Linked DNA regions of Homo sapiens: region 1 is linked to region 2. Evidence: fine-mapped expression QTL. A gene starts in region 2. The other region holds a variant in brackets. All regions are shown on one strand. Distances are from middle to middle.

Region 1 (16,022 bases), 150 kb before region 2:
GGAGAGGGCAAAGCTTCACCTCTGGCGCATGTGCCCCTCCTTCAAGTGTCTCCCCGTCGTGCCGGGTTCCCAGGCAGCTCTCCTCGCAGACCACGGATTTTCCACCAGGCCTTGCCTGAGATTCCACACCTGGGCTCATCGTCAGATTCACCTGGTGGGCTTCTCGGAAGTATCTGCTTCTTGTTTGGTCCCTCAAGAATATTTCCAAAGGTTTCGGGGGAGCCTAGAGATCTGTTTTTTTGAGAGTGTCCTGGGGGATCCTGGCAGCAAACCAGGCTGTAAGATGCATGTCCCAAGCCAGGCTCCCCAAATGCACATTTTGCTGGGCTGCCGTTCTCTTGTGAAATGTTTCCCAGAAACTTTGCCTGCAAAATCTTCCTTTCCTGGAGATTTGTGATCACAGTGACACACTGAGGGACTGATGAGCCTTTACAACAGATAGCTGTTGTCTAAAGGTAAACACACTCTTTTGAGAGAAGATAATTTTTTTTCCTGGCATCACAATGGTTTTTTCTAGGACTAGAGAGGAAAGTCTTACTCCAGATGTTTTCTTACTTCTTCCCTCTTTTCCATAGACACATACCTACCTTGTGCCCATTCTTTCCACGGGTGTCATGGAATCATAAGGGAAAAATGACTGGAGAAATGAATCCTGTGCCATTCATTAACTCATTAGTGAGTTCTCACCTCCCAGGAAAGATAGTTCTGTGATCCAGTTTAAATATTTACATTTCCATGATGCTTTTTAATCGAGGATCTTAACTTTAGAAATATCAGACTTTATGACAGATGGAGAAGGGATTTGGGGGGGACTATGAGCTTTTGAGAGCAAAATTTATTAATTCATTCAACCAGCCAACAACCAATCAACGAACCAACCACACACCAACCACACACTCATTCACTCACCCACCCACCAGCCAACCAACAAATCACCAACTGCCTATAAACCACTAACCATCCAAGCAATCAACCACCAACCAGCCAACCAAGCACTCACCTACCTACCAACAAACCAACCAACCACTCACCCACCTACCAACCAACCAACCAACCACTCACCCACCTACCAACCAACCAACTAATCAACCACCAACCAACCAATTAGCCAATCACCAACCAACCAGTCAAGCACCAACCAACCACCAACTAACCAACCAACCAAAAACCACTTACCCACCAACCAGTCAGCCAACAAACCACCCGCTAACCAACCAACTACTTACCCACCAATGAATCAACACTTTATATTAAATAAGGTGCCTTTAAACAGAAACATACATAAAACAAAGTTATATATGGATTGGTTGACAAAAATGCTATGGTCAGGGCTGGTAGGAACATACCCCATATTTCTCCTGGGAACAATGGTTCAGCATAATTGTCTCTTGGTATCCTTGGGGGATTTGTTCCAGGACCATCTGCGGATACGAGAATCCAAAGATATGCAAGGCCCTGATATAAAATGGCATAGTGTTTGCATATAATCTATGCACACCCTCCTGTATACTTTAAATCATTTCTAGATTACTTATAACACCTAATACAATGTAAATACCATGTAAATAGTTGTTATACTATATTGTTTAGGGAATAATGGCAAGAAGTAAAATAGACATGTTTAGTACAGATGTAACCATCATAGGCCTAATTACATTATCAATCCAGGGTTGGTTGAATCTGAGGTTTTGGAATCCATGGATTCGGAGAGCTGACTGTATTTGCTAATTCACTGTTCTTGGTGACTTTAGAGAACAGAAGTACTGAGAATGACAAGCATTGACTGTACTTTGTCTAATACTGAGAATGAAGGAGAATAAATGAGAATTCAGGAAGCATAAAACAAATTAGTTTACAAAGTCTGAGATAAGCTGGCATTTACTGATGATTTGCTTAGATACAGATCTCCCGGCCCTTAAACGTTAACTACAGTTCACAACCGTGTTGCCTGAGCCCCTAGTTGTTCTCCCTTCTAGCTTCTCTCCATAATTTGGGAGGAATTTGACACTTTTGTGGTCAAAAGCAAGAGAAACTGAGACCCTCTCTGAGGTTCACTGATAATTTTATTCTGTTTTTAAAAATAAGGCCAAGATATAATAAAGTGCACAAATCTATACAGTTTGATGGACTTTTGTGTATGTATACAAGCATGAAATCATCCCTTGAACCAAGGTTTAGGGCATTCCTCCTTAGATTGTTGTAGGTCTGAGAGACACACCTCCTTATACCTGGTGTATTCATCAGAAATGATCCCATGTGACCTTCGGAGAGATATCGCCTCCTATAGCCACAGCAAGGATGTGGTTTTTGTCTTCAGGCTCATTAAGAAGTCCATATATTGATAAAATATATAACATTCACATCATAAAACAAAACAAACCATGCAGATGGATAGGAAAAGAAGGGGTATTGCCTTAAACTATGGTGGAAGACAACATTGTTATTTATTAGTTAATGAGCTGATTCTTTGAAAATGATTAACTTCTAGAATATAGATGTTGAACAAGGTAGCATTCCTCCTTATCACTGAGCAAATATTTGTGGATGGCTATTTGGATGCTAATAAAATGTATTGAGATCAATACCTTCTTCATAATTTTTGGCTCGTAAACATTTTGTTCATATCCTGGAGACTCATGTGTGCAGCACGTGTTTTTCACTGGATGTAGCAAAGCTTGTGGGGTGGCTTTCCTTCATAATTGTCTTCTGTGGATTTATGGTCAGCTTTTGTTTCAACAAAATCAACTACCAAAGAAGCTTGTGACCATGAGTTTGTGAGAAATCTTCAAATTCATTTTTGTTATAGGTGGTATTTAGTAGGTTTTTGTTCGTTTGTTTGTTTGTTTGTTTGAGACGGGTCTGGCTGTGTCACCCAGGCTGGAGTAGAGTGGCGCATTCTAGGCCCACTGCAACCTCCGTCTCCCTGGTTCAAACAATTCTGCTTCAGCCTCCTGAGTAGCTGGGATTACAGGCACATGCCATCATACCCAGCTAATTTTTGCATTTTTAGTGGAGACAGGGTTTCACCACGTTGGCCAGGCTGGTCTCGAACTCCTGACCTCAGGTGATCCACCCATCTCGGCCTCCCAAAGTGCTGGGATTATGGTGTGAGCCACAGCACCCAGCCTTTTTCTGAGAAAAAAAGATAGATATGTAATAATCTTGCATGATAGGTTTTTTGTTCTGTAGGGTTCTCTGGCAGCCCCTGTTTTATCCATTGGACCAACTGTCTGTAAAGGCAGGTAACTTACTTACTTCTTTCTCCTGGAGAAGGACTTTTTGCCCTAACCGAAGCACACTAGTCACAGAGTTGTCCTAGTGACAAAGACACAAATTGAAGCTGCACTCAGTACTCATGGCTGATCAAGGGAAGTGAGCTCATCTCACCTTGACTCACAGCGATGACAGGTTCAAGCCCCTGCATGTGGGCCCGTTCCTCAGAGGATGTTTGCAATGGGGGTGGGGGTTGCCATGGTGATGCCCAGTCAACAGAATGGAGAAAAGAGAAATTTGGTTTGAAATGAAATTTGAGTCTTGAGAGAGGGCTGATATGAAGGAGAATCAAACAAGCCACATGGGAGCATCTGAAGGCCTGGAGATAAGGGCCTGTTGCATGGCTGTGAAAATTTGGCCTTTAAAATAACTAGGCATGGGCCAGAAATCACAGCCGGCGGCTGCGACCACCCAAGTGAGTCAAAGGGAGCTGGATGAGAAGGTGGGGGGCACGCCTGGGTTAGGGTCCTTGACAGTTTTGTCCAGATTGGGTTTGAGTGTGGGGTGTCCTCATGGGACTCTGGTGAGTTGGGGGTGGGAAAGGCGGTTGACTCCTTGGGGGCTGGTCACCACTCAACAGCTGTTCTCCAGTGGCACTTTATGAAGCAATGTTAGCAATGGGAGCTCCCCTGCCAAGATGTGGGTGGTCGGTACCCAGTGGCTTTCAAAGCCAGCAACCCAGGGATCTCACAGAAGTCCATCAGCCTGAAGGCAGGCACGTGGGAGATGACTAAAACCAGGTGATGTAGGCAAGAGGTACCCTCAGAACGCCCTCGAGTTGCCCCATTGTTCTTTTCTGTGCTGCCTGTGTGTGCAGCCGCTGAGCTCCTTGTGTTTTCGGGAGGTGGAGTATGCACCCCTGTGGGCTCATCCATCCTCGCCCTCATCATCCTCCCTGGCACCGTGCAGACTCTGAGCTTCTGCCCGCCCCACCCAGGTGTCTCATCCCACCTGCCTCGGGGAGCCTGGCTGAACAGCAGGCACCACCCTGAGCCACCCCTTCCCAGCCAGAGCAGCTCCGGTCGGAGGCTTCCTCCCAACAGGCGGGCTTCTTAAGCCTCCTTAATCTGCACGGAGGAAATTCAGAAATCCAGTCATCCTGAAACCATCTTCCTTCGGGGCAGGACAGAACCCGTGTGTGTGGGTAGATGAGTGTGGATGGTGGGGGTGGGAGGCACATTTGTCATCGTGCTCAGCCCAGAACTTCCCAGATGTTCAGGCCAATCAGGGTGAACCCTTGAACTTCCCTGGGCCTCTGATGCCCGGCTAGTGCCTCAAAAAGCCTCATCCGCGGGTGCTTAAAAAAAAAGACTTGAGGCTTCTTTACAGACACAGCTCATTCTAGAAATCTTCCAGCCCCAACATCACCAAAGGCGAAGAGAAGAAGGAAACTCACTATTCTAGCAGTCCCTGGGCCAAGAGCCTGTTAAGCCATTTTACGAGCCGTCCCCTAAAACATGACAATTCTGCCAGGCAGGTGTGGCAGAAGCGGGGCTATGTCTTTCCCAGAACACTGCAGCTTCAGCATGTCCTGCTTGCAGCCGGGGCCCCTGGGAGTGATGCTGGAGGACACCACCTCCAGGCTGCCCCAGAAACCTCCTGCCCAATACTCACACCGTCTCTCTTCATCTGTTGACCACTTTAGGGCAGGAGATCCAGCGGGGGACTATGGAGCTCAGTGGAGCTGCGGCCTGGGAGAAGCCCACCCAAGAGAACCATGTAACTAGAAACCATCACATTCGGCTTCGTGTGAGGGAGAAGCAGGTGTTTCATTGCACGCAGTTACTGAGATCTGGGGTTGTTTGTTATTGCAGCAAGGACCCACCCTAACACACGAGGTGTTATATGCATTTTACAGATTGCCAAGATGGTACAGACAGCAGAAGTGGCAAAACAACACTTAAACTCAAACCTGCCCAACTTCAAAGTCCACGCCCTTCCCTGGGCTTCAGACTGCCGTCTTTGATGCTATCTTTCATTGAGATGTTGTTTGCATTAAATGGGGGATCTTGCGGCACACGGTGGACCTTGCCCAGCACCCACTCTTCCTAGGGCCAGCCTTACTCTGTGGGGTCAGCCTTTGACCGTCTGGGCCATGAAGGTGGCTGATGAGGCCCCTTCGACAGCCAAGTTGGGGCACAATCTCCTCCGGATGTTGTTATTCCTTCACAGTCTCATCGCAGGCGGGGAGGAAGTCAGAGGGCTGATTTAGAGGACAGAGATACAAACAGAGTGAGCAGAGGATGTTTGGCTGCAGTTGCTCCAGAGTTTCAAGGGAGAAAACACAAGCATTGCTGAGCGGCCATTAGGGGCTTGCACGCTCAGCTGGGCACATGTCCACACCGAGGCATCACGTGCGGTCTGAGCTGAGCTCTCATCTCTGGGTTTCAGGACTTTCAGCACAGTCCTGGCCCTTCACGTTTAGTCTGGGTGATCAGGGATGTAAACCAGCAATTGCAAGGTGGTGAAGCACCACCGTGGAAGGGCACCAGCCGGGCCCTGGGGTCACAGAAGTGCCCCAGGAAGTGTGGCCGTTAAGCCTGGTGAGAGGAGAGCGAGCCGGGAGGACGGTGAGAGACAGGCATGACGGGGCGGTGAGTGTGACTGCTGCTGAGCATGTCTGAGACGGCAGGCAGTCACCAAAGGCTTGTAAGCAGAGGCAACACCCTGACTTGTGGTTTGGAGAGATCATGGTGACTGCCGTGCAGGGACGGAATGGAGGCTGCTCCAGTGACTCTGGCCGTGGGCAGTGGTGGGCGGGTGAGGGGACAGAGGAAAGTGGATGGAGTTGCTGCCCCCACAACCCTGCTGAGAAAGTGCCCACGGGACCTGGCGGGGTGTGAGTCACACTTGGGCTGCTCTGCCTGGCTCTGCACCTATTTCGTGAGCTGGAAGGGACAGCCTGAGCCCCGTCCCTTGGATGGACATCAATGCAGGAGTAAGGGTCTGTCTCTGAAGCTCTCTGAGCAACGGAAGGGAAGGTGCCCACTGGGCTCAATGCAGAGATATTGGGGCTGATGTGGCAGGAGGGGTGGGTGTGCAGGCCCGGCGGGGAAGGAGACTTCCAAACAGACGGGCTGCCCCACGGGGAATCTGGCTGGGGCCAGTCATTCTCAGAGTCAAACCATCTTCATTCAACTCCGAGGCTGCCCCAGGCCAGTAGCGTCCTTCCTGAGAGCGCTTCCTGCGAGATTTATGAGGCAGGGGCCAGGCCTGGATCGTAGAAAGCTAGAGAATGCCTTGGCTGCCCAGGGAAGTCTGGAATTTCTTCCAAACCAAGCTTCCAGACGTCCCTCTGGACTCCTCTGTCTGAGAATGGGCACTTTAAAGGCCCAGGAGAGAACTCCCATGACACCGTTTTCCAACCTCCCATCTCCCCTCCCCGGCAGCTCCCCATTTCCGGCATCTCGGCTTGGCAGGACCCCTCCAGG[A/G]CCTCACTCCTCTGAGACGCACTGCAGACCTCACAGGTGACAGCAGCGTTTTGCTGACTCAGAGGCAACTACCACGATGACCCTCCAGCCCGTGTCCAGACCTGGGGCAGCGACTTGGACAGGGGGCTGCAGAAGTGGGTCTGTGAGGGGGACCTGACGGGGGGCTGCAGAAGTGGGTCTGTGAGGCGGACCTGGGGGGGCAGCCCTGGGGTGGGCTCACTGGGGTTCACTCCACCTCGAAGACTTCAATTCCAGCTCTGGCTGGTTTTGTTGGATTAGGAACACACAGCCAGCCAAATCTTGGTTACTAGGGTGCCAGAGATCACGTGGAGAAATGAAATAAAGAGAGAACCCCCAAACGGTGGTGCTGCCATGCATTGGAGCCTCTCGCCCCAACAGCATTCTTACTTTATTTATTTATTTCTCATCCACATTTTGCTGGAAGATTTTGCGCATTCATAATGGCAAACAGAATATGGCGATAAGCTTCTGTGTACACTATCATCAACAGCTTTCAATTCCTAATTAACCTTATTTTATCAATATTCCCCATAATCCCCCATGCTGTTTCTTGGCAAATCTAGATGACCCACCATTCCAGCCTTAAAAATTTCAGTGTATAACTGACCAAAGCTTTTTATTAGAATTGCTAGGTAGGGAGGAAATTTAAGTTTCTATGACTATGCCTAGTAAAGTTTGAAAAGAAGACAACGGGGGAAATAGACATTGACAATTCATATTGAATAATTGCACAGAGACAGTTCCTTTGTTTGAGGCTAAACCGAGACAGAGCCTCAGATACCCTCACTCACTCCTCTCTGGCTGAGAGGGGAGGAATTTTCGTCTGGGTCAGGGAGCAATGAGGTGGGAGTTTTGTGCTTCGGTTCTGGGGTGGAGATGGAAGGTCATAGGTAGCAGTCCAGTAACTGGCCCCATAAATGGTTCTGTGAGGCAGAAGCAGCTGCTTTGTGGAGGACTTGTGAGACTCTGAGGGAGGAGGAGGGAGGGCTCACGCACACCAAGGCGGCCCCCATTGTTTGGGTTTTGGGAACCCTGGGAGACAGTGGCCGTGGTCTCTGGTTCCCCTCACTGGGGCTCCAGGAGCAGTGGCCATGTTCAGACCAGAACAAAGGGGTCAGGACCAAGAGGATAAAGAGATACAGGCATGGCTGCTGGTGGGACCTGGTGGTCTGACAACAGAACACCACAAGACATCCCTCAGGGACCGTGTGTCCTTTAGAGACACTTCCCTCCACAGGGATGTGGCCATCAGATGTCTGTCCAACCCGAGAGCTAGCTGTGCAATGGGCCCAGTGTGGAGGTATAGCCAGTGGGAGGGCTGGAGCCATGGTCGGGAGTGGAGGGGTTGCCTGCAGTGCCTGTGGACGGGAGGGGCACCAGGAGAGGAGGGTCTGGAGGGGGACACCAGGAGAGGGGGATCTGGGGGGAGATACCAGGAGAGGGGGATCTGGGGGTATACCAGGAGAGGAGGATGGCGGGGGACACCAGGAGAGGGGGACCTGGGTTTTACCAGGAGAGGGGTACCTGGGAGGATACCAGGAGAGTGCACCTGAGTGGGACACCAGGAGGTGGAGACCTGTAGGGGGAATGCCAGGCGAAGGGGACCTGGAGGGTAACACCAGGAGAGGAGGACGGGGGTGGGGGGACGCAAGGAGAGGGGCAGGGCTTGGAGTCACTCTGCCATCTTGGGCTCCTCAACTTTGGGATGCCAGCTCAGCCTTTCTGAGACTGGGTTTCCTCATCTGTAAAATAGAGGGATCTCCCCACAGAGCGTTTGTGAGGATTAAAGGATCAATTCCAGAAAAAGGCTCAAAGCAACGCCTGTCCCGCGCCCGGCCCACAGTGAAGCTGGGCGTCGTTACTCCTGCTGTGGTCACTGGTGGTGTGAGGACCGCAGCACAGGGCAGGAGGGACACGGCCCACAGGGCGTCCGGCCTCCTTGGCACCTGCTCCAGGGCCCTTCCCGTCACCTCCTGGCTCCTCCGTGCACGTCTTGCTCCAGCGCTGCGTGGCCGCCTGTCCCCATTGCTCCGGAGCCCTTTACATTCATTTCTCCTCACCTGGGACCCTCTTCCTCCCCTCTCTGCAGTGGAGGCTCCCAGCCTTGTCCAAGGGCTTCCTGGGAAGTCACTTTCCCTCCGAAGCATCTCATGCACCCTCCGGGCACCCTCACCCCTCCAGAGGTCCTGTGGCTCCCCAACTAGTGGGTGACACTGTCCTATTGCTGGACGCCATGGCTTCGAGGGCCTGTGTTACCCTTGGGCAGGGCCTTTAGTCCTGCAGGCTTGGACTCTGTCTTATTCATCCAGCCCCTGCATGCCTGGCATGGGCCAGGGCCTGGGCTGGGGGCTCAGGAGATGTAGTTGGATCTGAATGCTGGGTTGGAGAATTCTGTAAACACATAGGATGCAGGGTGAGTGGCCGTATGGGACATGAGCAAAGTCCTCTGGGAACCTGAGGCGCAAACTCTGAGTTCATTTTCACACCCTCCATGGTGCACACTGCCATATACCAGCAGGTGCCCCCAAACGCACAGCTGAATGACAGAGAGAAGTCAACCCGTGCAGGCTTCATCTGACTGTCTCCAGACGACTGGGTCCCTGGCCCTGGGCGAGCCCCTCCCGGAGGGTCTCCCTGCATTCTCTGCCAGGTCTGGGCCCAGGACCATCCTCTGGGGGATGGGTGTGTTGACTGCTGGCTGTAGAGTGTGGCCTGTATCTGCCCCTCTCTGGGTCCCACCCTTCTGGGACTGTCTCAGATTTGAGGAAAGGAAGATGGATGTTGTCTGGTCCGGTCCGTGCCTCACCGTAAGGTGTCGTGTTGTGCTTTTGGCCACTGAAGATTTTCCCTGGTCTCTGGAGCTCCAGCCAAGCTCTCTGAGCGCCAATATCATGTTTCCGTTTTCCCGCTGTTCTCAACAAGCAGCTATGGATTGACTGGTTGATCGCAAGGCTGTTTTAAACAAAATAGAATATATTTCTTTCAAGAAGTCCAAAGCTCTCAGAAGAGCATTTCCAACTTATTTCCAATAATCTCTAATCTCTGAACAATGTCAACCCATCACTCCTAGATCTTTCAGGCACTCCCCATCCCCCCACGCTGACCCTTTCCTGTCTCACACACACTGTCTGGAGATAAAACTGTGGGGGGCGGAGGTCTGGGAAAGAGAGAGAGACACATACACACAGAGAGTCAGAAAGAGAGATCAGAGAGACAGAGAGACAGAGACAGAGACAGAAAGAGTTAGTGAGATCAGAGACAGAGATTCAGAGAGATCAGAGAGAGAGTCAGAGAGACAGAGACAAGAGAGAGGGACTCAAATATGTTTCAGACAAGAACCTGAAGCAATTGAGTCAAAGTTCTGCAAAAAAAAAAACCCACGAAATTTAATTTTAGATGGAAAAAAAATGACGAACCCCTTTGAGGCCTGCCTGTTAGTTTTGGTTGTGTGTCATTGTTTAAATATTCTTTGCATTTCCCCTCGCCAAAGACTCTAGTTAAATTAGAGCCAGCTTAAAGCACGCTTTATTTATGGCCGTGCCTACCCCCAAGCCTCGGGGTTGTTTTGAGCCAGCAGGGAAGGTGTACTTAATATAGAGCAGGAGGGTATGTGTGCAATGTTCTTTGAATGATGATTGCAAGGTGCACAGAGAAGATTTGACTTTATTTAGACATTCGGTTTCTTCACAGTCTCCTCTCTGGAAGGGCTCTTGGCTTCCTCTCCAGACAGCATGTGTGTGGTAAGGAAAAAGCCTGCATGTGGAGGTCTGTGGGAGGAGGTGTGACTGCAGGATCGGGGTAAAAGATTTTCATTATGAGGGAGGGTGCGTCACCCACACTAGGAATTCCCAGGAGGTGCAGTTTGATTAAATATTTGTATGGTCCAGGTTACCCTCAGCTACCCCGATAGTGGGTGCTCCCCGAGGCAGTGTGTATTTTGGGGAACAGTAAAAAAAATCCACGCTGCTTAATCAGAGATAAAACATTCAGAGACGGCAATGATTGGTGCATACCTGCGTGGAGGGTCTACACTCTAAAATATTTGCCAGCATATTATTCTCAACTTATGAAGCAACACACCAAGGCATTCTGGGTAGAGGGGGAGACCCATAAAAAAGCTTGTGCCTTTAATAAAATGTGTACCGGCCGAGCGCGGTGGCTCACACCAGTAATCCCAGCACTTTGGGAGGCCGAGACAGGAGGATCTCTTGAGCCCAGAAGTTTGAGGCCAGCCTGGGCAACACGGTGAAACCCCATCTCTACAAAAAATACACAAATTAGGTAGGTGTGGTGGTGCATGCCTGTGGTCCCAGCTACTCAAGAGGCTGAGGCAGGAGGATCACTTGAGCCGGGGAGGTCAAGGCTGCAGTGAGCTGAGGTCGCACCATTGCACTCCAGCTGGGGTGACAGAGCAAGACACTCTGCCTCAAAAAACAAAATAAGCAAAAAAACCACGTACTTTCATAAAGCTGAGTTGTGTTTGCAAGGACACGTCTCCCCTATAAGGAAGACTTGGGAGAGAATTGATGCTGAGAACACCAGAGCTATCCTCAGACAGTGCACTCCTTGTTTTAAACTAAATTCAGTAAATATTTTGGAGGATTTTTGATGTGTCAGATACACTCACTCTTTGTCCAGGGCAACTGGGAACTGGACGAAGGGCAGGACCTGGGGTTCCTGAGTCTGCTCAGTTACTCAGGAGCAGCCCAGTACCACCCGGGCTCCAGAGAGCCTGTTCCCTCTGAGGGGACGTCGGGGGCCCTCCAGAGGAAGGCGACCTTAGAGGTGCACCTGCCAGATAGGTGGGTGCTCTTCCTGTGCCCTGGCACAGCTTGAGGGTGTGAAGGCAGCCGAGTCTCCTTCCTGGGGACAGTGGCCTCGCCTCTCCCTCCTGGGCAGCAGCTTGCCTCCAGGAAGGTGGCCGAGGGCACCGACTCCTTCCCCAGTGGTGGAGGATTGGGGCTGCAGTCAGGGGTGGGGGCAAATGGCTAAGGAGGCAGCGTGGGGGTGGCGTCCAGCCCTGTGCAGTGCCCTTGCCCCCACCGCTTGCCCTTCTAGCTTCTGGACTAACCCCTGCTGCCTCCGCCCAGGCTCCTCTGGGGGTCAGAGCAAAGAGGACAGGGTGAGGGGACATGGTGCTGCTGGTTCCGGGTGCTGCCTTCACCCTGGGAAGCTGGCGCCAGCTTTCTTGGGTGGGGGCTGCATTTACATAATGGTGAGTTCTCTGGAGGAACACCCCCAGCAGCATACGGGGTCCTCAGCACCACAGCATTCCCTGATGGGCAGATGACCCCTCCGGCCTCTCTGTGCCTCCTGCATCTTCCTGCCGTGGTCACCCTGGCCACCTCCTTCCCGATGAGCCCAGCCCTTCCCCGGCCACCTCCTTCCCGATGAGCCCAGCCCCTCCCCGGCCACCTCCTTCCCGATGAGCCCAGCTCCTCTGCAGCACCCACTCAGCTCCGGGGACCCTTGCGCTCCCCACGACATGCCACAGGGCACACTGTTGAGTGACGCTGGCCGGTTCTCCTGGTTCTGCCCAGAGACCCCCAGGGGCGCTGCTCTCAGGCCTCTTCCCTGGAGCACTGAGCTTCCCGGCCACGTGTCGCACAGCCTCCTGGCAGCCTCAGGGACAGATACCCCTCAGCCAGGCAGCCCAGCGGGGGGTCTCAGGACCTGCTCCCTTGGCTGGTAGTTGGAATGCGGGGGCAAAGAGCAACTCCTTTCCTACCCTTCCCTCGGGGAAAGGGGAAGACATGCCCTGTCCACTCCCAGACCCTCCCAAGGGAAAAGAGGCTGCAAAACACCATTTGGTGAGAGGCCTGGTGGAGCCAGGAGACGCAGGCGCTCAGGGAGAGACAGGCCCCTCCACACCGGGGCCTCCTTCTGGAAACTTAGTTAGAATTTGTCCCTGAATTATAATAAGACAGCCTCTACTTTGAAAAGAAACCGGCTTTGATGTATTGTTTGGCGGCAGCTCCCCAACACTGAGATCTGACGTGCCCCCAGATTCCCTGGGCTCAGAAAACAGGACACGCCGAGGACATAGAAGCCTGGGTGAGCAGACCCCAAGGGAAGCCCCGGTGTTAGAGAGGAACCTCCCTCCGGAAAGACGCCGGGTTCCTCAGAGGGCCGTTTTCATGTGAGATGGGGATGTTTTATTGGGTGCAGTGGCAGGACCAAGGGCTGGGAGCAGGGAACCTCTGGGCTTGCCCTGGAAGCTTCCATATGGGGGCAGCCAGGCAGAAGCCTGTGGGGTGAGTGCTGCATGCCACAGGGGTGGAGGAGTGGGCTCCCTGGAGGAAGATCTCCTGATCCTCAGGCCTCCTCCAGCACCAGGCGCAGAGCTTCCGCCACCAAGGATGTTCCAGCAGAGACCACACAGCCGCGTGGCCTGGACTCGAAGCCATCGAAGTTTTGAATCTCTAAGTCCTTATTTCTTGCCAGCCCAACTATTAATAAATCAAAAGCTCCTTGGAGCGTTGGTTTTTATTTTCTTCTCCCCTAGAACAGTGTGGAAGGAATGAGTGCCTGCTGCCCATGGCCAAGAGACCCCTGACCCCTGGTGATGAGGAAGCTCTTGCTTGTCACTCAGCCCCACATGGTCTGGCATTCACGAGCCCAGTCATCACTTTCTAATCAGGAGATGTCTTATCCTTTTATGGTTTTGTTCCCACCCTTGCGAGGTCAGCTGAGGGTTGACCCTTTGTCTCAGGAAGGTGGCAGGAGCCAGAGAGGAGCAGCCCGAGGTGCTCGGAATTGTACCTGCTCAGGAAGCCAGGCATAGAGTCCACGAAGCTTCACTCCTGAGCCCCTGGGGAGCATTCCTGGCAGCGTCGGCACAGGCAGAACCATGGAAGGAGTCGGCGTCCACCCCGGGACTTGGTGGTACCCAGTCTTCTCCTTGCACACAAATGCCACCGTGCCTGTCATTCAAGTATTGCTTTACCTAAAAGGCTTGAATTTGGAGGGGGAGGCAGGGGACATTTTCATCTCCTAAACAAGGTATTTCTATAGTATAGTCGTTGCTTATCAAAATCACACCTTACTTTTGAAATTTAAAAACATGCAAAAAATATATTTGAGCAGTTCTCCCTTGGAGTAAGGGGATCCCCATTACAAGTGCAAAATCCTCCTTGAGGGGTAGAACCAGCTCATTAACCCCGTCACTCCCTCCGAACCCTTAAGCATGGCTAGTTTGTTAGATTACATACCACAGAATGATCTGGAAAGAAGGATTGCATAACTCGTCAAGGAGAGTGTTGGTTTTGGGCATGGCATGGGGGTGGTGGGTTGGCTGGGAGGGAGATGTGTAGGTCTGAGGTCCCTGAGAAATCCCAGTGTCACAACATGGCTGAGCCCAGGGCATTTAGGAGGCTGTGGGCTAGAGGGCCAGAGTCTTCCAGCTGTGCTTCTCAGAGACCTGGGGGTCGGTGGGAGGTCTTCTCCCATCCCCTCTTCAACTGCAGCTTGGCTGCTTGGCTGTGCTTTATAGACTGGCTTAACTCATGAGAGTCCATCGGAAGGGCTCTTGGCTAAAAAAAAGTGTTGCCAGGTGCCGTGACTCACACCTGTAATCCCAGCACTTCGGGAGGCCAAGGTGGGAGGATTGCTTGAGCCCAGGAGTTTGAGACCAGCATGGGCAACATAGCGAGACCCTGTTGCTACAAAAAATCTAAAAATTAGCCTGGTGTGGTGGTGCAGGCCTGTAGTCCCGGCTACTCAGGAGGCTGAGAGGCAGGAGCATGACTTAAGCTCAGGAGTTCAAGGCTGTGGTGAGCCATGATCATGCCACTGTACTCCAGCCTGTTCAGCGTGCAATGGCACAATCATGGCTCACCACAGCCTGTGCCTGTGACAGAGACTCCAAATCTAAAACATAAAGAAAGGAAAAGAGTGTGAAGCTGCTGATGCAATCCCCTTGTCTCAAGTGATAGACAAGATGTCTGGGGTTCAAGATTGCCGATGTGTCCACGGGCATGGGGTGTTGGTGCAGCCCTGGACCTGGGGCAGGGGGCTGTGTGCAACCAGGCCTGGTCAGCATTGCTGTCGCTACTACTCTTGTGCAACAAGTGGGGACAACACAGCGCAGCACGGAGCGTTTTCTGAGAAAGGCCGGGGGGTCCGGAGTGTGAAAGGACACCTCAGGGCTGGGGCATGGCAGGGAAGGCTCTGGGTGCTGAGTGCTTGCAGTCCAGGGGGCTTCGGAGCTGCTGAGAGAGGACGAGCCTTGGGTGCTTGACAGTTCTGCGGACAGTTCAGAGGCTGCAAACGCTTCCTGACTCCCCAGGACTGGTATTCTAAACTTGGAACTCGCAGTGCGCTCTTGGCGGGCTTCAGAAAGTTCACGAACACCCTGAACTTGTACCAAAACATTATGTGCATGGGCGTTTCTCTGGAACCGCGGTCCAGGGCGAGGGAAGTTTGTGATAATTGCATTTTTGAAGGAGCAAAGGACCCCTGCTGGGGTACGTCACATGGGGACCCAGGGCCCATCCTGTCTGGCCCTTTTCTCTCCACTTCAGCAGGAAAACACACACACACACACACACACACACACGAGTCTTCAAACTTGGAATAGTGATTGCACTGCTAGAATGCTTATTTGTGTGTGCAGGTGTAGCTTTAGAGATGGAGGCAGGGAGAAGGACTATGCATTCTGAGAGAGGGAGGGATTGAGAGAGAGAGAGAGAGTGTGTGTGTGTGTGTGTGTGTGTGTGTGTGTGTGTGTATGTCAGCAGGAATCTGAAAGTACAGCTTGGTGACTGTAAGGGCTGGAGGTGTCGGTGTTTTCTTGCCTGTTCCTTCTCTCTGAACAGAGCTCTCTGTTTGGAAGACCTGTCTTAGCTGTTCCTTCAAAAGTTCTGTGTGTTCTCCTCTGATCTGAGCTGACTTTCGGGGCATGGCTCCAATGGTTTGCCAGCAACTTAGGCCAACGGCAACAGCGGAAACCGAGACAGCTCTGCAAAAATATTTGTTTAATTAGCAGAAACGATCTGTGATCAGAATCCATGTTTAACGACCTGGCTTACAGCCAAGCTCAACACATTTTCCTTCAGGACTGTTTTTGGTGTTGAACTGAGCAAATTCAGCTCTGACCTTCATCCTGGCTGGGGGAGGGGAGACGCCCCACCCTGCTCAGACCCTGGGCTTTTTATTGAAAGGCAGTGCCAGGCACACTCTGATGGGTCTTGGGGGAGACCAAGGGTGCCCTGCTCAATGTCAGCCCTGACTCTGTGCCACGTGCACTCAGCTCTGCCACGGAGGTGCATGGCTCTGTAGACGTGGACGGTGAGCTGG
Region 2 (16,022 bases):
AAAAATAACATTTTTTCCAATTAAATAAAAAATGTAATCTGTAAATGCCAAACATATAAAAAGAATTATACCATACATGTAAAAAGAATGGTATAATTTATCCTCTGCAGTTAACACTTTTTACATTTGGGGTGTGCCAAGCAACTGAGGTTCTCAATTTCTTTGCAAATCAGGCAAAAACAAACTAAATTATTATAGAAACAATTCATTTATTTGGGTCAAATATCTGATGTAGTAGACATCCACTACTGTTTTGGCTGTTCAGCATCTTTGCTATTAAGGAGTTGTCTCTTCTTCCACTTCTGACAATCATGTAGACTATGTCTCCTATCATACTAGGGTTTTCTCATCTGCATGAGAGTCTCAACTAATACATACATCTTGGAATATCTTGTCTAGAACACAGTTGAGCATCTAGAAACCAGCAAACACCACCCCCAAAGCACCCCAGACATCCTAATGTCCTGCATTAATTCTCAGGCCTTGCCCACAGCAGCAAATTCAGGGAAGAGGGAACAGGGGATAATGACAACAGCAAGTAACAGAAGGAAAGAGAAATTCTGAAGGCTTCCATCATTAACAATCCAGTACTCTTTGGAAACAGTGTGGCAATTCCTTAAGATGTTAGTGGTAAGTTTACCGTAGGACCTGATAATTCCACCCCCAAGAATTTACCCAAGAGGAGTGAAAACGTATGTCTACACAAAGACTTTTTTTTTTTTTGAGACGGAGTTTTGCTCTGTCACCCAGGCTGGAGTGCAGTGGTACGATCTCGGCTCACTACAACCTCCGCCTCCAGGGTTCAAGCGATTCTCCTGCCTCAATCTCCCGAGTAGCTAGGATTACAGGGGCACGCCACCATGCCCAGCTAAATTTTATATTTTTAGTAGAGACAGGCCATGTTGACCAGGCTGGTCTCGAACTCCTGACCTCAGGTGATCCACCCGCCTCGGCCTCCCAAAGTGCTGGGATTATAGGCGTGAGCCACCGCGCCCAGCCTACACTAAGACTTACATGCAAATGTTCATAGCAGCATTATCCATAAAAGCACCAAACTGGAAACAAATCAAATGTACAACAGCTGGTAAATGGAGTTGACAAAATGTAGTATATTCATATAATGGAATATGGTTTGGCAATAAAATGAAATACTGATGTAAGTGAAAGAAGGCAGAAGCAGAAAGACTACACATTGTATGATTCCACTTGTATGTCCTGAAAATAGAAATTTATAGAGCTAGAAAGCAGATCAGTGGCTGCCTAGGGCTGGGGTGGGAGCAGGGATATTTGGGGTGATGAAATGTTCTAACAATGGATTGTGGTAATGACTGCACAACTCTATAAATTTACTGATAATTACTGAATTGTTCACCTACAAAGGGTGAATGTTATGATATACAAATCATATCTCAATAAACTATTTAAAAACATAGTCAACTTATTTGGGACCACATGGCCTTACAAGCTTCTGTGAGCATGCCTTTTATTTTTGGCAACTACTACTACTAATAATAAAGATCCTGGGTTGTCAAGAATTGATTTAAGGCTATACCTTTAACTGGATATCCACTGTACAAATCCATCAATTAATTTTACTGGAAAAACAAAATTCAAAGAGTAAGCCTTATCACTGTTGGTAGATCATAGGTCATACTATTATTTTTCTACCAATGGACAGCATTATTTCAAATCTGCAAAAAAGGAAAATATAAAATCCTTAAAAGGATCAGTATGTATTTATATTTCTGCCATATGGGTGATATGTAAAGTTCTATGGCTTTCCCTAAGGCCCCGAAAGACAGAAATAAAATTATTTAAACATTACTTGTGTCCAATTTTCAGGACCTTAGACATAGGTACTATGAAGTGAGATTTAGAGACTAAGTAACTTGCCCAAGGTCCTTAAGAGCCAGAATTTGAACCTAGGAAGTCTGACTGCTTTTAATGCCTAAAATCTTTAAACGTTACTCTTTGTCTATGGGTTCTAGTCTAAAAGAATGTTAAAAGAATATACATTCTCAAAGGAGAAGACAGAAAATAATTAGGTAAATCAAAGCTGAGGCCAGAACAGACTTGGTATCAAAAAAACTAGGCCAGAAAAGCAGTCCTCGTTCTGAGCTCTCAATCATGTAGTATAACCTAGGGTTCTTTAGAAAGACCCTTGCTGGCCGGGCACAGTGACTCATACTTGTAATCCCAGCACTTTGGGAGGTCAAGGTGGGCGGTTCACGAGGTCAGGAGATCAAAACCATCCTGGCCAACATGGTGAAACCCCGTCTCTACTAAAAATACAAAAATTAGCTGGGCGTGGTGGCGCTTGCCTGTAATCCCAGTTACTCGGGAGGCTGAGGAAGGAGGATCACTTGAACCAGGGAGTCGGAGGCTACAGTGAGCCGAGATCGCGCCACTGCACTCCAGCCTGGCGACAGAGCAAGACTCCATCTCAAAAATAAATAAAAAAATAAAATAAAAAAGAAAGACCTTTGCCTACTACCCAGAACTGGGAGGTGAGGAGAAAGACGTTAAGAGGCCTGTCATATTGTAGGGAATATCTACATAGAAAACATAACTGCTGCCCCAGAGAAACTTGCACAGGTGTATAGAGGAGATGTATCAACAAACAACCTAAAATCCCAAATACATCTTATACAACATACCAAATATATTCCACCTGAGTTATAAAAATTGTATATTATAATATCTCACTGTACAGAATATCATAATGTATTTAGCTTCCTCCTCCTGTTTTTTCTAACCTTTCTACTACACAAATGTGCTAGGATATACTTTCTTGTACATACATCCATGTATACTTGCCCATTACTTTAAGATAAATTTCTGTGGGTAGAACTGCTTGGTTTAAATATTTGCATTAAAATTTTGTTTTATTTGCTATATTTCCCTTCAAATACACATAATGGGAATATCAGAAAGAGAGGAAAAGAGAAAAGAGCAGAAAAAAACTTCAGAGAAACAATGGCTGAAGCTTCTCCAAATTTATTGAAAAACAACCACCTACACATTCAGAAAAAGCTCAATAAACTTCAAGTAAGATAACACAAAGATATCCACAGACAGACACATCATAGTAAAAATGGCAAAAGTTAAAGATAAGAAAATCTTAAAAGCAGCAAGAGAAAAAAACACTTGTTATTTACAAGGAACCCCAAAAAGATTCTGACTTCTTAACAGAAACAATGGAAGACAGAAGCAGTGTGATAACACATTCAAAGTGCTCAAAGAAAAAGAAAATTTCAGCAAAGAATCCTATACTATCAAAATTATCTTTCGAGAATGAAGGAGAAACAAAGACATTCCCATAAAAACAACAACAACAACAACAACAACAACAAAACAAAGAAAAAAAACAAACAGAGAATTTGTTGGTAGCGGACTTGCCTTACAAGAAATACCATAAGAATTTCTGGCTGAAAGCCAGTGACCACAGACGGTAATCTGAGTTCACATACAAAACCCAAAAAAGCCTAGTAAAAGCAGTGTCAATGAAAAAAATCAGTAAAGAAATTCAAATGCTATAAATTAGAAAATTCTCACTTAATGCAAAAGAAAGCAATAAAGGAGGAATAGAGAAACAAAAGACATATATAACACGACAAAATGGCAGACATAAATCCAACTATATCAATAAATAACGTTAAATGTGATTGGAGTAAACAACCCAATCAAAAGAAATGGACAGCCAGACAGGATCAAAACCAACCAACCAACCAACCAACCAACCAACCAACCAACCAAGATCCAACTATATGCTGTCCACAGGAGACACACTTTAGTTTCACAGATATAAACAGCTTGAAAATAAAGGGATAAACACGTATCATGCAAACAGCAAGCCACAAGAAAGCTAGAGTAGCTATATTAACATCAAACAAAATGGCCTTTCAAAGAAAAAAATGTTACCAAAGAGGGATATTTTATAGTGATAAACAGATTGATCCATCAGGAAGATACAATTACAAACATATGTGCATATAAAAACAGCACAATCTCAATAAATGTAAAAGGATAGAAATAATACATAATACAAAGTGTATTTTCCAGCTGCAATGTAATGAAATTAGAAAAAATTTGTGAAAGTCACAATTATGTGGAAATTAAACAATTCATTCCTAAATAACTAATGGCTCAAAGAAGTCAAAAAGAAATCAGAATTTGAGATTAATGATAGTGAAGACACAATATATCAAAATTTATGAGATGCAGCTAAAGCAATGCTCAGAGGGAAATTTATAGCTGTATCCCTATATTAAGAAAAAGATCTCAAATCAGTAACTTAATCTATAATCATGACACTGGAAACAAAAAGGGCCAACTAAACCTAAAGCATGCAGACTAATCTGAGCAGATTACTCAGATTACTAAGCAGGAAGAAGGAAACAATAAGGATTAAAGTGAAAATAAAACAAAGAATAGAAGAACAAAGAAAATTAATGAAGCTAAAATCACATTCTTTGGAAAGATCAAGATTGACAAGACTGTAGCTAGATTGACCATCATCATAAAAAGAAAGAAGACACAAATTACAAGAATCAGAAATAAAAGAGGGGACATTACTATTGACATTACATGAAAAGGATTATAAAGAAATACTATGAACAAGGAAGGGTACACCAACAAATTAGATAACTTTGATGAAACAAATTCCTAAAGAGATACAACCTACTGAAACTGACTTAATAAGAAACAAACTATCAGAAGACACCTACAACAAGAGATGAGATTGAATTAATAATAATAATAAACTATCCACAGAGAAAAGTCTAGGCCTAGGTGGCTTTACACTGAATTCTACCAAACATTGAAAGAATACCAATTCTTCACAAACTCTTTCAAAAAAAACAAAACAGTAGGGAATACTTCTTAACTGATTTTATGAGGCCAGTATTATCCCAATACCAAAACCAGACAAGCATAGTACAAGATAATAAAACTACAGATCAATATCTTATGAATATATATACAAAAATATTCAACAAAATATTAACAAAATGGATCCAACAATATATTTAAAAAAGCTATACACAATGACCAAGCAGGACTTATACCAGGAAGGCAAAGTTGGTTTAACATCCCAAAAAATCAATTAATGTAACACATCAGTAATAACAACAACCACATGATCATTTCAATAGACAAAAGAAAAAAAACCCTAAAACCTTTCATGATAAAAACCACTCAAAAACTAGTAACAGAATGGAACTTCCTCAACCTGATAAAGGACATCTACAAAGCTTACAACTAACATCATACTTAATGGTGAAAGATTGTATGCTTTCCCCTTAAGATCAGAAACAAGACAAGAATTTCCCGTCTCTCCACTTCTGTTCAGCGTTGTACAGGAGGCCCTACCCAGGGCAATTAGGAAAGAGAAAAAAGTAAAGGGCATCCAGAGATTGGAAAAAGAAGTAAAACTATTTTTATTTGCTGATGACATGACCCTGTACACAGAAAGTCCTAAAGAAACCACTAAAAAACTATTAGAACTAATGAGCTCAGCAAGGTAGCAGGATCCAAGATCGATATACAAAAATCAATTGTATGTATTCCTATACAATTGAAATTATTAAACTGAAAATAAAGTGATACAAAGCGGGGCAGGGAAGTGCTGCGTAGAGGAGAGCGTGGTCCCTTGCTAGGGCTCCATCCCCAGGCCTGGGCCCACGGACCTAAGTGAGGATAGGCATTTCTGTTTTCCTACCCAAATGTTGCATTTCCCAAGACCACCCTGGCTCACCACACCCCCATCCTGTGCCTATAAAAGCACGCCCCCACCTGTGCCTATAAAAACCCCCCGAGACCCTAGCAGGCAGACACACAGGTGGCTGGATGTCAAGAGGAACACATCGACGTGGGAGTACACCAGCACGCTGGCAGGCCAGCTGGCAGGCCATCGATTCGCAGAATGACGCAGAGCTTGGCCAGGGAGGTTGGAGGAGAATCGGGCAACCTGACACCAGGGCAAAACCATTTCCCTTCTGGCTCCCCCATCTGCTGAGAGCTACTTCCACTCTATAAAAGCTTGCAATCATTATCCAAGCCAACGTGTCATCTGATTGTTCCAGTACATCAAGGCAAGAACCCTGGGATACAGAAGGCCCCCTGTCCTTGAAATAAGGCAGGGGTCTAACTGAGCTGATGAATACAAGCCGCCTACGGATGGCTAAACTAAGAGTACCCTGTAACACAAGCCCACTGAGGCTTCAGCTGTAAACATTCACCCATAGACATGGCTATGGGGTTGGAGCCCCACAGCCTGCCTATCTATATGTTCCCCTAGAGGTTTGAACAGCAGGGCACCGAAGAAGCGAGCACACCTCCAGTGCACGCCCTGCGAGGGGGAAAAGGGAACTTTTCCCATTTCAAAAGAAATGAATCCATTTACAACTGCATCAAAAAGAACAAAATACTTAGGAATAAATTTAGCAAAACATGCAGAACTATACTCTGAAAACTACAAAACACTGTTGAAAATAATTAAAGATCTAAATAATTGGAAAAACATCCCTTGTCCATGGATCAGACTACTTAACTCTCTGTAGAGGGCAATACTCCTGAAAATGATCTACAAGATTTAATGCAATCTCTATCAGAATCCCTGTGGACTCCTTTGTAAAAATCGATTAAGCTGATTCTAAAATTCACATAGAATTGCAGGAGACCCAGGATAGCCACAACAATCTTGGGAAAAAAAGAACAAAGTAGGAGGACTCACATATCCCAATTTCAAAACTTACTATACAAAGCAACGGTAATCAAAACACCATGGTAATGGCATAGGGCTATTACATATAGATCAAGAGAATAAAAGTCAAAGTCTAAAAATAAACTCTCATGCTTAAGGTCAACTGATTTTTGACAAGGGTGCTAAGACTACTCAGTGGGAGAAAGAACAGTCTTCAAAAAATGGTGCTGGGGTACCTGGATAGACACATGAAAAAGAATTAAGTTGGACCGTCATCTCACATTATATACAAAAACTAACTCAAAATGGATTAAAGACCCAAATATAAAAGCTAAAATGATAAAATTCTCAGAAGAAAGCACTGGGGAAAGGATTCATAACAATGGATTTAGCAGTGATTTCTTGGATGTGACACCAAAACACAGGCAACAAAAGCAAAAATAGACAAGTAGGACTACAAACTAAAACATTTTTGTGCTTCGAAGCACATCATGAAAGTGAAAAGACAAACCACAGAATAAGAGAAAATATTTGCAAATAATCTATCTGATAAGGGACTTGTATCCAGAATAAAGAACTCTTAACAACTCAATAAAAAAGAAATTTAAAAATGAACAGGGCCAGGTGCGGTGGCTCACGCCTGTAATCCCAGCACTTTGGGAGGCCGAGGCAGGCAAATCACAAGGTCAGGAGTTCAAGACCAGCCTAGCCAACATGGTGAAACCCTGTCTTTACTAAAAATACAAAAAATTAGCCACACGTGGTGACACATGCCTGTAGTTCCAGCTACTTGGTAGGCTGAGGCAGGAGAATCACTTGAACCCGGGAGGCGGAGGTTGCAGTGAGCCGAGATCATGCCACTGTACTCCAGCCCCGGTGACAGACTGAGACTCCGTCTCAAAAGAAAAAAAAAAAAGAGCAAAGGATGGCCCACCAAAAATGGCCACACACATTACATAAATCCATTCATATGCAATGTCCAGAACAGAGAAATTCCTACAGACCGACAGATTAGGTTTTAGGGCAGAAGGGGTAGGAGAGGAACAATAGCTAAAGGGTACAAATGCTCTTTTTGAGGTGATGAAAATGTTCTAAGTAGTACAATTTAAGTGGGTAAATTGTACTGTACGTATTTGTCTTTCAAATTAGTTTATACTGAGTTTTGCCTGCAGAACGTTTTTCAATAGTCACATAATCATACACACAAATCTTTTTCCTTATGATTTCTGAATCTGATACAGTGCTTAGTTGCTTCTTGCCTCACAATTAATACTATCTTGTAATATTTTACGTATTCTTGTAGATGATCTTACATCTTTTCTGGAAAAGGAATATGTTATTTAATTCTCCATTTTCTCTCCATGGTTCTTCTAACTGTGTCTCACTCTCCTCATGCTGCCTGTGTTACTACGCTTTTCTCACAATGTATCATTTCCTACCTCACACAAAAAATAGAGGCCTGGTGGGAAAGTCCTCAAATTCCTGCTCACAACACACCCCATTCTTCAAAACTATATATCATCCATAGCTTCTTGTTAGGCTAAATCCTCTACCTTGAATTTGGATTCTGTCCTTTTCTGCCTTCTTGGATCCTTGTTCAACCATTTTTCTCCTCTACTGTCTGTTCAACCTCTCCCTCTATTTGTTAACTCAGCACAGCACATCAAGGGAATTTATTCTTTCTTAAGAGTCTATCCCACAAAATTGTGTTATTTCTCTCTATTCTTTCTTGTCTTCCTGTTGCAGTGAAACTTCTCTTCACCAATCCCATTGCCAGCTATCAGATTCGAACAATCATTTTTTCATTTAGACTACTGCAGACTGATTTCCTACCAATCCATCAGCTAAACTTGGAAATTTTAATTTGGTATACACAGCTGGGTCCACAAATCTCCTGAAATGTTTATGTATATGTGCACATTTTTGGGGAATAGTTTTCATAAAATATGAAGAGTGAGATGACTCCAAAATGTTGCTTATTTTTCTCATGGAAGGCAAACTGATCTTTTAAAATGCAAATATGTCATGCCATTGGCTCATTTAAAGTCTTTCAGTATTTCCCCATTACCATGAAGATAAAACCCAAACTCTGTCAAGGCATACAAGGTCTCTTCATGATGTGGCGCTTACCTCTTTAGCATCATCTCTCATGACTACCTCCTCCTTCTCCCCATATTGGTTTCCTCTCCTCTATACAAATATCACTGTTAATATAGTAATAAAATAGAATATATACCCAGAACTCATCAGACTCATTTGCTTCAGGGCCTTTCTACATGCTTCTCTGCCTGAAATCATCCATTTACATCTGCTCTCTAAACTGGTCCTTAAAGACTCAGGGATTACAATAGGAAATCATTTCCTATTCTCTCCAGTCAGGATTAAGTGTTCCTTTTAATCTACGGCATTCTGTGTATATCACTATAATAACTTTTATCACATATTATAATAATTATTAACCTACTTATCTTTCTTCCCCACTAGATTATAAATCTTAAATAGTAACAAGAGTATTTTTCCATTTCCATATTCCTAGTGTTGGCACTCACATTATTTTCTGAACAAATCGCACATTCTCTTCTCAACCTGTTGCAAAACACTCTAAGTTCGATATTGTAACCATTCTTGGAAACCATCTAAGATCAATACTCTCTTCTCATTACCAAATTTAATTTTCATTCCTCATCTAGCTTAATCCTCATCTTATTTTACTTAATCCTCATTTTATTTGACCTATCAATAACATCTGACATAGCTCGCCACGTCCTCTTCTTGAAATTCTTTCTTCATTTGGCCTCCTGGATACTGTTCTCACTTGGTTCCCTTCCTCCTAATTCACTAGCTATCCCCTGAGCTTCGCTTTGTGAAATTTCACTGAGCCAAACACGAGTCATACACTCTCATTTCAATGTATACTTCCACAAAAAGTAAAAAGAAAAAACACGAAAATGGTTGTGATGAACTCTCTAATAGGCATCTCATAACATATCCCGAAGTCAACTTATCCCTTAGTCTTTTCTTTCTCAGGACATGGAAGCCCATTCTCGTGGTGCTCACCATGACAGTTTCGGTCTGAGCAAAGGCATTTGGGAACGCCAGCCTACAGCCAGTTGGGTGTGCAGAACAAAACCATTGTGGTTTTTCCTAAGTCTCCCCTGAGAAACAGTCAGGAGGCGAGGAGACTCAATAAACCCGCCCCTTTGCCACAGGCAGGGAAAATCGCAGTTTGGGGTCTCAGGACCGACCTCGGTCCAAGGCCAGGCACACTGTCACTCCAGCCTGTGCCACCCTCACTTCCAGCGGCCCCCGTCCCCCCCCCCAACCCCGCGGTCACCTCCCCCACCCCCCACTCACCTCCCAGCGGCCCTCGCCTCCCCCTGGCCCTCACCAACACCCCCACTCGCCGCCCCCCACATCCAACTCCCGGCCAGCCCTCCCCTCCCCCCGGCCCTTGCCTCTCCAACACTCACCTCCCGTTCGGCCCTCCGCTCCCCTACACTCACCTCCCGTTCGGCCCTCCCCTCCCCCACACTCACCTCCCGTCCAGCTCCGACCCGGAGGTGTCGGCCGAAGGCCCCGTCGCTCCCTCCGTGCTGAGCCCAGAGGCCCGGCGGCTTCGCCTCCGCGGTCGAGGCTGCTTCTGAGCCGCCAGCTCGGGCTCCATGGCACGGAGGAGGGGGTGGGGCGGTGGCCGGGTGCCCGGGAGACCGGCAGGGACGGGCACGATGCCCGCCAGCCTCTGCCAGGCAGAAAGCGCCTGTCAGCGGACTGCAGCCGCCACCGCCGTCATCCGGGGATTTGAAAATGGCGGCTGAGCAGCGATCAGCCAATCAGTGAGCGCGCAGCGGTTCCTAGGAGACGTGGAGTCCCGCCCCTCCACCGCTCCCGGGATCTACTTGCCTAGGAAAGAACCTAGGAAAATTTGCCCTTAACTCCTGAGCGCATCCCTGAGTCCCTAAGGCCCGGTACCTCCTTCATTGTTCATTAGGACTTTCACTACAGGCCAAGGCAAATGGACTGGAAGCATTTTAATTCACCAGATCTTTCTTAGCATTTGAGGAGAAGAGAGGTCCAAACTAATGACCTGTAAACAAGGCATGTTTATTGGCCATATTCACACTGAATTATTGTGCACGTGGCCAATATGAGATATATTTCCAATTACCAAAGGTTATGCAAGTGTGTTCCCGGGACTGTCTCTAGGGAACCAGCAAAATCTAATTATGAGCCCTTATGTCTTCCAATAAGCATGACACAGTCTCTCCCTAGCAAAACAGAATGAAGTGACTTCATCCTTTGCTTGTAAAAGTCAGCAAAAGACATAATATAAAATAAAAGACCGCTTCAAGTAAAAAAAAAATTGTTAAACAAATTACACTTTCTTTGATTTTAAATATTGCTTTATATGTGTCAAAGTCTTTAAAAATAGCTTCTCCTGACCGGGCGCTGTGGCTCACGCCTGTAATCCCAGCACTTTGGGAGGCTGAGGCAGGCGGATCACGAGATCAGGAGATCAAGACCATCCTGGCCAACATGGTGAAACCCTGTCGCTACTAAAATACAAAACTTAGCTGGGCAGAGTGGCGCATGCCTGTAATCCCAGCTACTCAGGAGGCTGAGGCAGGAGAATTAGTTGAACCAGAGAGTCGGAGCTTGAATTGAGCCAAGACCGTGCCACTGCACTCCAGCCCAGTGACAGAGCGAGACTCCGTCTCCAAAAAAAAAAAAACAAAAAAACACTTCTCTTTTGCCAGTATATTTCCACTTATGGAAATTTATCCTAAAAAATAAAATTATATAAACATGAAGCTATTAATGACATTGTTTATAATAGAAACATTTAAAACAACCTAAATAAACAATGATTTATAGCTCATCCACTGAGAAGAATATTTTCAGCCAACAAAAATGAAGTGTGAAGTATGTAATAGTATACTGGTAATTTGAAATAAAAACATGAAGTATAGAGGTATATTCAGTATATTCAAAGTTATGAATTACAAGAGATTATACAAAGAAAAAAGATAATGTATTAAAATGTATTAAATGTATTAAAAAGTCAATGTATTAAAATGTCTCTAGGTAGACTTTAGGTATTCAAAATTTTTATTTTTATTTTTTGCATTTAATTTTTTTAAAAATAAGGACATATTGAATTTGCAGTACCTTTATAACATGAGGGAAAAATGTTTTTGTTTTAAAAAGAGTAAGAAATTAGGGAGTAACATTGAGATGTGAAGCCAGCTAGACTTCCTGGGTAGAGTGGGGACTTGGAGAACTTTTCTGTCTGGCAAGAGGATTGTAAAACACACCAATCAGTGCTCTGTAGCTAGCAAGAGGATTGTAAAATGCACCAATCAGTGCTCTGTAAAAAGCACCAATCAGCAGGACCCTAAAAGTAGCCAATCACAGGGAGGATTGAAAAAAGGGCACTCTGATAGGACAAAAATGGAACATGGGAGGGCACATATAAGGGAATAAAACCTGGCCACCCCAGCCAGCAGGGCAACCCACTGGGGTCCCCTTCCACACTGTGGAAGCTTTAGTTCTTTCACTCTTTACAATAAATCTTGCTGCTGCTCACTCTTTAGGTCTGTGCCACCTTTAAGAGCTGTAACACTCACCATGAAGGTCCATGGCTTCATTCTTGAAGTCAGCGAGACCATGAACCCACCGGAAGGAACCAGCTCTGAACATAAGTTGACCTTGGTCAAGAACCACTTCTGTTCTACCTTCCCCATCCCTCCCCAAAAATTAAAGAAGAAAGTACTGCTTTGTAGCAGTTAGAGTGTAAGAATACAGAAATGTTCTTAATATTTGGGGAGTTGGTCTCCACCAAGACAGAGCTTCAGAGGATGCAGATGTTTAGATTATGAACAAAAATAAACCTGTAAGAGCAATTCTTCAAGTCAGGTCCCAAGTAGGTCACAACTACTCTGTGTCCAGAAAACTCACACCCCTTTGGGATTTTCACAATTTACCCGAATTGACCAATCAGGGCTCACCTGATGTAACCGATCAGAACTCATCTGCTTTATCCAATCAGGGTTCAGCTGTATTACCCAATCTGAACTGAGCAAGTCTGAATCTTTCCTTTGCATAAACACATCTGATTGGAAACCTGGACAAGAACTTTTTCTATAGAAGCCAAACCCTCCCCTTTATTCTCTGGAATCACCTTTCTTTTACTCCGAAGGCTGTGTCTCCCTGGTTTGCAAACTGTTCACTAGAATAAAGTCTCCTTTCTCCAAACTTCCTTTTCAGAGAACTTTTGTTCACAAGATAGGACCATGTGAATCGCTGACGCTTGGTCTTTTTACCCACAGAAACAGCCGTTTCATATTAATAGTTTCAACATACTTCGGTGAGATCCTCAGAATTCAGGGTCTGTCCTCAGCTTTGCAGGTCCTGAAACTGGTTTTGATTGTGTCATCAGAGGTGGTCAGTCCTTTGGTAACTTGTAATAACTACTCACAAAATGATAGATACTGCAGGATGTCAATGTGGGGATTCCAGTGGTGGGGGTGGGCACTTCTTTCCAGTGACCTGAATACTATTGTTTTATGCAGAGCAACTGTTTCCAATTTTCATTCACTTGAGAACTTATGATTTTGTTCAATTATTCACAAGAATTTATTAAATTCCTGCTATAATATGCCAGGATCTGTGCTAGACATTAGGGAAATAAGGAATAGAAGACAAATTTTCATCAGAAAATGGCTGGGTACCATAGAAGAAGAGCAAAGAAAAGTGACCGCTCTGAGGGTTGGTCATTGAAGACCTGGGAAAGGCTGGTGACATCTCTTGATCTTACAAGAGATCAACTTTCTGGTGTCTGAATGCCATTGTCCCCATGTTCTATGTCTTACACTGTATAGAACAGTCCCAAAACCATGACAAATGTTCTCTGAATCCTCTCTCTTTCAGTTCCCCACAAATCATCCTTCTCCCTTAAAATATTCACCGGGATAGGGTTTGAGGAAATTGTTTTGATTTCAGCTTTCATATATATAAAATCAGACTCTAGAACTCCCTCTCTGAGAAGATATTCCTACTAACTTGACTAGAGCAAAGTGTAACCCAAACTTTTTCAACCATGGATTTGCAAAACAAATATTCTTTTGGGGAACTTCCTCAAAGATTATTTCCAAAACCTTCAGCCCTATGTGATGACACCAATCATTTTGCAAGTTGATATTAAATAAATTCAACAATCAATAAATGAATGTAAATTATTATGTAAATCAATAATTTAAAAACCTATTTTCTTTCATTATCTAAGTAAATCAAACTATTTTTGCAAAACTGCTTACCAAGTTTTATATATATATATATATATATATGTATATATTAGAGTACAAAGTGTTCATCAAAACACTTTATTAATTTCCAAATTATTTGATGATTTTGATGTGATATTTTGTTTGCCATTGCTATCACTAGCTAAATGATTCCCCTTTGGTCTGTAGGCTCCCATAGAAAAATGTAGCAAATTTGCAAACAATGACCTACCATTAGAAAACTAGTAGTCTTAATAACTAGAGAATTGCCCTTTGCATCAACGTTTTTCTTTTTTGTCTGAATCTTCTCATAGCTTCTCATGAACTAACAGCAATTACATTCAGGAGAATGAATGTCTGTATGTGTGCATATACATATAATTTATATATAGAATGTTATAATAAAGTCTGAAATTTTTAAAAATATATTTACTATATCTACTATTGATTAATTTACAAAACTGTTTATTAGACTGTAATTTTTAATTGGGTCAAACTTAATTGTTCCTGCCAAATGAAAGGGAGTGTAGTCCAACAGCTAAGTATGTGGACTGCATTGATTGTCATTCTGACAAGCAGAAGTGTACTTATAGGCACAATAGGGCAGAATATTTGAAATCAGGTTTGTCATCCCTTAAAATCTATCACTGTGTGTGTATGTGTGATGTGGGGGGAGGTTGTTTCATTTTTTGCCTCAATCAGTCAATCAATCAATCAATCATCTATGAATCATTTGTTTACCATATTGGTTTACTCTTAGGTATTCCAATGAGGAAAATGGAAAACTCCAAAATCTAGCTGTTGAGCTTAGAGAACAATAAAATTTGAGATGAAATATGTGTGGCCAGAGAAGGTGCTATTAATCCAAAGTAGACTGTAATTCATTTTTCTTAACGCTTAGACTATCTTCCTAAAGACATTGCAGGTCTAAAAGACTGATTTATATTAGTAGTAGGAGAGGAGAACAGAGGAGGAAGGAGAAAGGGGTTTCAGTGCAATGGTAGGGGCCAGAGAGAATGGCAAAGGACAGTGATCTGGCTGTGGTTGTGAGGCTGCCAACAGAGAATTACCAAAGAGAACTTCAGAAATGTCAGAATGTCAATCAGAATTATTGCTCAGAGTTGAATAATTTTTTTTTTTTGTAACAAATTTTCATGCTTAGAAGGTTTTGTTTGTCTCATTACTTGGCCAGTGAATTGACTGGCTCACAATGAAAAATACTTAAGAAAGGAACTTTTTTTTTTTTTTGAGATGGAGTTTTGCTCTTGTTGCCCAGGCTGGAGTGCAATGGCGTGACCTTGGTTCACTGTAACCTCCGCCTCCAGGGTTCAAGTGATTCTCCTGCTTCAGCCTCCAGAGTAGCTGGTATTACAGGTGCCTGCCACCACACCCGGCTAATTTTTTGTATTTTTAGTAGAGATGGGGTTTCACCACATTGGCCAGGCTGGTCTTGAACTCCTGACCTCAGGTGATCTGCCCACCTTGGCCTCCCAAAGTGCTGCGATTACAGGCATGAGCCACTGTGCCTGGCCAAGAAAGGAACTTTGAACAAGGACATCGTAACTATAAATACCACACTTTTATCACTCTGCCATTTTTTCACCCTCAGAACCTAAGGGTGGCCACCAAGTATGTCAGAGTCAGTATTGTGTGTGTGATTTATTTTAAGGAATAAGTTAGTGTGATTGTGGGGCTGTAAAGTCTGGAATCAGTAGGGCAGGCTGGCAGACTGGCAGGCTGGAAACTCCTGAGTAACAGCTAAAGCTGAAACTAAAGGTGCCATCCTTAGGAGAAATTTCTTCCTCAGAGAAATCTCCATTTTACTCTTATGGTCTTTCAACTGATTGGATGAGGCCCACTCACATTATTGAGGATGATGTCCTTTACTTAAAGTCAAAGTTTACTGGAGATGTTCACCACACCTCCACAATGCCTGCACAGCAATACCCAGACTAGTGTTAGATTGGATAACTGGGTGCCACAGCCTAGCCAAGTTGACACAAAAACTATCACCCCAGAAGGCCTCTTCAGACGTGAAA

What was found.
Region 1: its variant is fine-mapped to the expression of NET1 in whole blood (TOPMed, PIP 0.98).

Annotation. Positions count from the first base shown.
Region 1 is chr10:5,554,202-5,570,223 of GRCh38, reverse strand. LOC105376381 (a long non-coding RNA gene) reads left to right here and starts at 3,343. Exons shown (of 2, transcript XR_001747274.2): 1 at 3,343-3,688; 2 at 4,919-7,063. RefSeq lists silencers at 6,054-6,280, 12,151-12,473 and enhancers at 8,993-9,494, 15,677-16,022. The variant A/G (reference allele first, on the strand shown) is at 6,705.
Region 2 is chr10:5,407,038-5,423,059 of GRCh38, reverse strand. It overlaps NET1 (neuroepithelial cell transforming 1), which reads right to left and starts at 10,503. Exons shown (of 12, transcript NM_001047160.3): 1 at 10,240-10,503. The coding sequence starts at 10,367. RefSeq lists an enhancer at 1,677-1,846 and a silencer at 10,162-10,591.